2 separate regions of the Homo sapiens genome follow, and region 2 is reported to be linked to region 1. The links are microRNA targets in miRTarBase. Many come from high-throughput screens and were not tested one by one. Region 1 holds a microRNA gene; the other region holds the end of a gene's coding sequence.
What was found. Region 1 holds the annotated microRNA hsa-miR-3168 (GAGUUCUACAGUCAGAC, at 1,926-1,942, shown strand). A microRNA usually pairs through its seed, bases 2 to 8, with sites in the 3' UTR of a target mRNA and lowers its output. Matches are read on the target gene's strand: a 7mer-m8 pairs with bases 2 to 8, a 7mer-A1 pairs with bases 2 to 7 and ends in A, and an 8mer does both.

Region 2: miRTarBase lists STMP1 as a target of hsa-miR-3168. Seed matches in the 3' UTR shown: 7mer-A1 at 838-844.

Annotation. Positions count from the first base shown.
Region 1 is chr13:41,098,866-41,103,017 of GRCh38, reverse strand. It overlaps MIR3168 (microRNA 3168), which reads left to right and starts at 1,918; the gene lies at 1,918-1,999.
Region 2 is chr7:135,673,497-135,677,496 of GRCh38, forward strand. It overlaps STMP1 (short transmembrane mitochondrial protein 1), which reads left to right. Exons shown (of 3, transcript NM_001130929.2): 3 at 595-2,920. The coding sequence ends at 669. Among named protein-coding and RNA genes, the nearest start is that of STMP1, 13 kb to the left of the region's middle.

The sequences.
Region 1 (4,152 bases):
TTTTTATATTTTTAGTAGAGACGGGGTTTCACCATATTGGCCAGGCTGGTCTTGAACTCTGACCTTGTGATCTGCCCACTTCAGCCTCCCAAAGTGCTGGGATTACAGGCATGAGCCACCGTGCCTGGCTTATGTGTGTGTGTGTGTGTATATATATATAATGTGTATATATATATTATATATATATTTATATATATATATATAAAATATATATATAATGTGTATATATATATTTTATATATATATATAAATATATATATAATATATATATACACATTATATATATATACACACACACACTAAAATATATATATATATATATTTTTTTTAAGAGATGGAGTCTCACTATGTTGCCTAGGCTGGTCTCAAATTCCTGGGCTCAAGCAATTCCCCCACCTTGGCCTCCCAAAGTGCTGGGATCATAGGCTTGATCCACCATGCCTGGCCCTGTGAAGTATTTTAAGGTTTATTCTGAGCCAGTATGAGTGATGGAGGCCCAGGGAAAACACAAACCCAAGAAGCCTTGAGTAAGTGGTCCTGAGGCAGTCAGAATGTAACTTTGTCTATGGCGGTGAGTGGTGGCTCAAGCCTATACTCCCAGCGCTATGGGAGGCCTAGGGAGGCGGATCACTTGAGATCAGGAGTTCAAGAATGTAACTTTGTTTTATACATTTTAGGGAAGCAAAAGTTACAGCCAAAACCGTAAATCAATACATGGAGGTTATACACTAGTTTAGCCCGAAAACATGAGATATCTTGAAGCAGGGGCTTACAGGTCACAGTGGGTTCAGAGATTTTTTAAATTTGCAGTGGGTTAAAGGAACAAAGCTTTGTCTAAAAACTTGGAGTTAGCAGAAAGGAATGTTGAAATTGGGATAAGGATGCTGTGTCAGAGTCCGGTTGTGAGAGCAAGCTTCAATATACTGGGTCAAAATGACCTACTTATCAAGACAGATGGCCTGCAGGTGTGACCTAACCCTTGCCTTGCATGGCTTTAGGTCCTGTTTATAATTTGGTATTTTATTGCCACAGAGTTTGTTCTGTCAGTCTTTTGATTTCTATTGTAACATTATTGCTAGTCAGTTGTGCCTAAATTCCAAAAGGGAGGGGATGTCTTGAGGCCTTTCTGACCTCCTTTCCTGTCATGGCCAGGAACTAATTTTTAAGATTTCTCTGGTGTCTTCTTGGCTAAGAGGGGGTCCATTTAGTCATTTGAGGGCTTATAGTTTTGTTTTTCATTTACATGTGTGTATTTTTGTACGTATGTAAAATACATATATATTTTACGTATATAAACTGCTTCTAATGCTATGTAGCATGTCCCATATGAGTACATCAAGGACCTGCTCACTCTTTTTTTTTTATCTTCAGAGTAGACATTGTAAAAATGTATCATAATCCACTAAGTTTCCATTGGTGGACATTTAAGTGACTTATAATCTTTTGCCATTACAAACAGTGCTGTTGTGAATACTCTTCTACTTACATTATTTCACTTCTATGCCAAAATATTTTTAGAAGCAATTTCTCAAAAGGTGTGTACATTTGGCATTTGGAATTTTGACAAGGTATTACAGAAGTGCCTTCTGGAGAAGTTATGCCCATTTATGCTACACCAGCAATATATAATGGTGCCATTTCACCCATCCCTCCTAGAAATGTGTTATCAGACTTATTGATATTTGCACTGACTTGAGTTTTGCTTTAGTTCTGGCTGCCAGAGAAATATTTGTTCTTTCACATTTTCTGAACTGGTTGTTTGCCCTTCCAATCAATTTTGCATGTGGCGTCCTTTCAACAAATTCTTTTTTTTTTTTTTTTAGAAATAGGGTCTCTCACAGAGAAACACACATACGAACTAATGTGTAAATGTTTTTGTTCCTCCTCATTGATGACAAAATGATGGAATAATGCTTAAAGATCATGAGTTCTACAGTCAGACAGCCTGAGTTGGAGGCTCATCTTCACTTCTTGCTGTGTGACCCTGGGCCAGTGACTTAACTTCTCTATGCCATTTTCTTATCTGCAAAAGGAGGGTAATACTAGTATCTGTCTCATAGGGTTGTAGTAAATTGATTATTAATTGCTATATGAATATTCATGGAAAACTTATAAATAGTTCATATTTCTTTTAGCAGACAGTTTTGACATGGACATATGTTTTTGACATGGACATATGTTCTCATGATTCTCATATTGTGTACATATAATGTAGTCTTGTGAATTAAGCAGATGTTTCTCAAGGGACACCATAACACTTAGAGGCTCTGTCATTTGAATAAATTTGAGCCCACCAATGTAAAACATGCAGAAAATCTTGAGTCGTATGTTCAGTCTCTGTTCTGTATCTTGCCACGTTTTGACCTCATGCAAGTTGCCTAATATTTCAATCTCAAATTTTTAATCTGTAAAATGAGTTACTTATATTTATGTAACTTCTAGAATTTTTCAGTGCTCAAATAAAATATTACAAAATATGAAGCCAAAAAAAGAGGGAAAGAAACAGGGTCTCATTCTGTCTCTGAGGCTGAAGTGCAGTGGCACGATCATAGCTCACTGCAGTCTCCAACACCTGGGGTCAAGCAATCCTCCTGCCTCAGCCTTCCAGTAGCCAGGACCACAAGCACACACTGCCACATCTAGCTAATTTTTTTTTTGTAGTGACAAGGTATCAATATTTTGCCCAGGGTGGCATCAAACTCCTGGCCTCAAGCAGTCCTCTTATTAGGGAAGCAGGAGCCTAGGAGAGCCAGTGACACCATTGAAAAATCAACCCCATCTTAAAACTAGCAAGGCACATTCCTTGCCAGTGACAACCCATGGTCCTGATATGTTTACAATTAAGAAAGCAGCTTGATAATGCCTGTAAGGACAAACTCCTACAACAACAGAAAGTCCAGATGTCCTGATCCCCATAACAATGTATCCTTTCACATAATTATAGTTATGCTTTAATGTACTTACACACCAAAAGGTCAAGCATAGTTTTCATTAAATCAGTAAAATAATAAATTTTGTCATGCTGTCTGCCCGTCTGCACATAGATACAACTGAGCTTAGTCTTTACATTGACAAGAACCCTATATAAGAAAAACGTGGCTGGATGGCCAGGCGTGGTGGCTCATGATTGTAATCCCAGCACTTTGGGAGGCCAAGGAGGGTGGATCACTAGATGTCAGGGGTTCCAGGCCACCCTGGCCAACATGGTGAAACCCCTTCTCTACTAAAAAAATACAAAAAAGGCTGGGCACGGTGGTTCACGCCTATAATCCCAGCACTTTGGGAGGCCAAGGTGGGCAGATCACGAGGTCAGGAGATCGAGACCATCCTGGCTAACACGGTGAAACCCCGTCTCTACTAAAAATATAAAAAAAAAAATTAGCCGGGTGTAGTGGCAGGCGCCTGTAGTCCCAGCTACTCGGGAGGCTGAGACAGGAGAATGGCGTGAACCTGAGAGACGGAGCTGGTAGTGTGCCGAGATCGCGCCACTGCACTCCAGCCTGGGCGACAGAGCAAGACTCCGTCTCAAAAACAACAAAAAATATATATATATACATATATATATATGTATATATATGCATGTGTTTGTATATATATATTTGTGTATATATATATATATATACACAAAAAAATTAGCTGGGCGTTGTGGTGCACTCTTATAGTCCCAGCTCCTCGTGAGGCAGAGGCAAGAGAATTGCTTGAGCTTGGGAGGCGGAGTTTGCAGTGAGCCAAGATCATGCCACTGCACTCCAGCCTGGGCGTCAGGGCAGGACTCTGTGTGAAAACAAAACAAAACAAAACTTGTGACTCTGTGTAAAAAAAAAAGCAAAAAACAAAAAAAAAACAAAAACTTGTGATTCCAGCACTTTGGTAGGCCTCCACCCACCTAACAATTGTTTGGGACACCCAACAGTTCTGGATTAACTTCATTTATCCAAATTGCACTAATTCCATTAGCATATTATGGCAACAGCATTCCTGGAGACATCAGAATTGGCCACCCAAAAGACTAGAATGCAACCTCATTGGAAAAATTGAAGCTGCGCTAGGTATACTGGGGCAAGGTGAGTTTATAGCTAATGTAATGTAGGAATGTAGAGAGGCATTCCTTAGAGAAAAATTCCATGTAAAAAATAGGCCACATAAAAGGAA
Region 2 (4,000 bases), not on the chromosome of region 1:
ATGTCACATTTATTGTTTATATGTACAACCTTTACTTGGCACCAGATCGAGCGGAAGTGGGTATACAAAAGTAGAAGTGGGTTTCAGAGAAGGAGCATACTTATCTGACAACTTCTGATATCTTTCACATGCAGTTATAAGGCTAAGAAATACCACTATTGGCCGGGTGCAGTGGCTCACGCCTGTAATCCTAGCACTTTGGGAGGCCGAGGTGGGCAGATTGCTCAAGCTCAGGAGTTCGAGACCAGCCTGGGCAGTGTGACGAAAGCCCATCTTTACAAAAAATACAAAAATTAGCCAGGGGTGGTGGCATGTCCGTGGTCCCAACTACTTGCGGGATTGTGGCGGGAAGGATCACTTGAGCTCTGGAGGTCAAGGCTGCAGTGAGCTGTGTTTGCACCATTGCCCTCCAGCCTGAGTGACAGAGTGAAACCCTATCTTAAAAAAGAAAGCAAAAAGAAATAACCACTATTTAGCAGATCTCTTTTGGAGGAAGATAAAAGCTTGTAAAACCATTTATCTTTGGAGGAAGAGAAGTACAAGAATATTGATTAGGTAGATGCAAAATTATAATAACCTTTTTTCTCTTCAAAGATACCAAACCTGGCTAAAAAACTTGAAGAAATTAAAAAGGACTTGGATGCCAAGAAGAAACCCCCTAGTGCATGAGACTGCCTCCAGCACTGCCTTCAGGATATACTGATTCTACTGCTCTTGAGGGCCTCGTTTACTATCTGAACCAAAAGCTTTTGTTTTCGTCTCCAGCCTCAGCACTTCTCTTCTTTGCTAGACCCTGTGTTTTTTGCTTTAAAGCAAGCAAAATGGGGCCCCAATTTGAGAACTACCCGACATTTCCAACATACTCACCTCTTCCCATAATCCCTTTCCAACTGCATGGGAGGTTCTAAGACTGGAATTATGGTGCTAGATTAGTAAACATGACTTTTAATGAGTAGTGTCTTCTTTATCGTTTGCGATTTTTACTACCTTTTTTCAAAAGAAAAATTGATGAGTTTTGTATAGCTGGTCAGATACAAATAATAGTGACTTCACAGTTTAGTAATTATAATGGGTACTTGTTAAACATTTGGTACTAAATTATGTTGCTGCAAAGTAATTAAAATTAGTATCTAGAGCTAGTTTCTGGTGAATTATTCATTTATTTTGTACTGTTGTTAGGCAGCTCTGTAGTTGCTAATTTAACCAATAAGTCAATTTGCTATTCATGAAGAAACGATTCTGAGAATCCTGTCAGGAATTGGGGAATGAAAAAATACACAAAATAATGGTCTTTGTCCCAGTAGAGTTCATAGTCTATTTAGTGTGCATGTTTTTCCTTAATGATGTATTTGATCTGACTTTTTTCCTTCTCAAAAGAATCATACTTGGGATTACAGGTACATTTGATGTTATATGATGGATAAGTGAAAAGTTTTTAAAGGAGATTTTATACCTTTTCACATTAAAAAAGGTATTTATATTATTACTTTGTAGTGATTGTCTTAAGAAAAAATATAGCCCAAATGTATAGTAAAATCAGCAGCTCAAGAAGAATTTCTGCTTCTCTTTGTAGTTGATGCTTTGTTTTTTCCTGCAGTCAGAAATTCCTTGTATTTGTCAAATGTATAATCAGCTTGTATTGTTTTTAAATTAAAAAAAAATTTGAATAATTAACTTTTGCCATGGGACAAGATACAAAAGTAATTTCATATAAAGGGCCTCTCCCACCCCTGTTCTCTGGCTCCTGGCTCCTGTTTGACAAGTTACTGTTACCACTTCGCCTTATACTTTTGAGAAAGAGTCTGTGCCTAAACAAACACGTGTAACACAAATAGTAACTATACATGGAGGTCTAGCCCTCGCCTTTTTTTTTTCTTTTTTTCTTTTTTAATGGAGATCATTCTATACCAGCATGTAAGTAGCAAGGAACCTCATTCTTTTTTTGGCTGCCTAAAATTTTTTTGAATAGATATAACATAATTGATTTAATCTGCTACTGGTGAATGCTTAGGTTGTTCTTTTGCTATTACAGTGATAACTTCAATCCTAATGTTATTAAGCATATCGATTCAGGGTATAGCTATAAGATGAAGTCCTAAAAGTATAATTTAGACTAAATACAAATACCCATTTCGCTAGCTGTTTTGTTTCAGAGGACTTGTTGAGCAGCTTCACTAATAATGCCATTTTTGAAGACATGGCAGGTTCAGAATCAATAAACTGGAAGAATTGTTCAGAGCATCTTTTTTCAGACAGTGATGACATTGATTCTGTATATGATAAAGTGATTCTGCTTCTCTTTGACAACTTGCATCTCTCCTACATGGAAGTAAGTTTTATTCCTGTCAATGTTGTCTTTGTGTGTGACAGATTAGGATTAAATTATGGTTTGACTTTTCCTAGCAGCGTGATCATGGGCAAGTGGCTTTTTTTTTTTTTTTTTTTTGAGACAGAGTCTCACTCTGCTGCCCAGGCTGGAGTGCAGTGGCACAGTCTTGGCTCACTGCAACTCCTGCCTCCCGGTCCAAGTGATTCTCGTGCTGCAGCTTCTCAAGTAGCTGGCATCACCACCACACCTGGCTAATTTTTGTATTTTTAGTAACGACGAGGTTTCACCATGTTGGCAAAGCTGGTCTCAAATTCCTGGCCTCAAGTGATCTGCCCACTTCAGCCTCCCAAAGTGTTGGGATTACAGGCGTGAGCCACTGCGCCCAGCTTTTTTAAACTTTTAGATTCATTTAATAGGTAAATTGCATGTCACGGGTTTGTAGCTTATTCTTTCAGAAACTCTTGCATTATCTGTAGACGTGGACGTAAATATCCACCTCATAGGGTTTTCATAAAAAATAATTGAGATAATGTATGTAATGTTTCACAGTGCTTTGCAGACTATCTAATAAATAGTAGCTATTAGTACAAACTTGTTGCTTTTTGGCTAGTTCTGCAGTCACTTTTGGAATCAGTTTATGAACCACACAAAAAGTTTGTCATTATTCTGTAGTCGCTGTTTTTGATACTGATGAAAATTTACAGTATCCACCTGGATTGTACCATCTGGCTCACAAGATTTGATCTTGAATTGTTAGCACAATGAACTACAGCCTCAAAGGATGAAAGTTTACCTTGCGGGTATTAAAAATGCTAGAAGCTTAGAAAGCTGTTTCCAAAGAGGGATTCCTTGTTACCAACCATGATAGCATTGCTGTGGTGTGTGTGGTCTCCCAGAGTGGCTGCTTTGGGATTGGAGGTCACTTAGCTATTAGAAGGATAGGTCTCTTTATATTATACCTTGTAAACAAGGCTCATTTGGACTTAGGGCTTCCTTTAGAGGTGACACTTAACCTTGGCAAGGGGATCATTTCTACCAGTGGGATCCATCTAGCAGATCAGTTCTTAAATTCGGCTTCATCATGTAAACTGCTACACAGTGCAGGCTGACTTTGCATTCACCATTCAGATACCCTCTCCTAGTTTTATGTTCTTGGCAGCAGTGAAAAGGACCTCAGAGTTCTCAGGCAAGATGATCTTCACTGAGCTATATGTTGGAGGAGCCCAGAACCATCATAGTTTTAGGGTGTAGTTGAAAATCCTTACTGTGAATGGGGTTTATGGCACTGAAAGTTACCCCTTCCCTGGGAATTTTGTAGGAACCCTTGCCACACAGATCAATGGAGTGGTGGGAAGAAGCACCACAAGACAGGCCTTTTTTTTTTCCTTTAAAAAATGTTTGAAAGCTCCTACTAATATGGTTAGGAAAACTTCTGCCACATCTGACCATAAAATGAGAGTTGCTCAAAATACTAGTGCAGATTACTCTGACATGTGAAATACAAGACTTCAGGATTGATGCTAGAAAAATACAGTGAACTTGAAAAGCTTATCCCTAAACTGTAATCCTCCCAAACAAAACAAAAACAAAGCAAGAAAAAAAGCCTTATTTAAAATTGTCAAAAGAGGCTGAATTTTATGAAGTTACCAAAAGTATATCTTTAGACTTTTC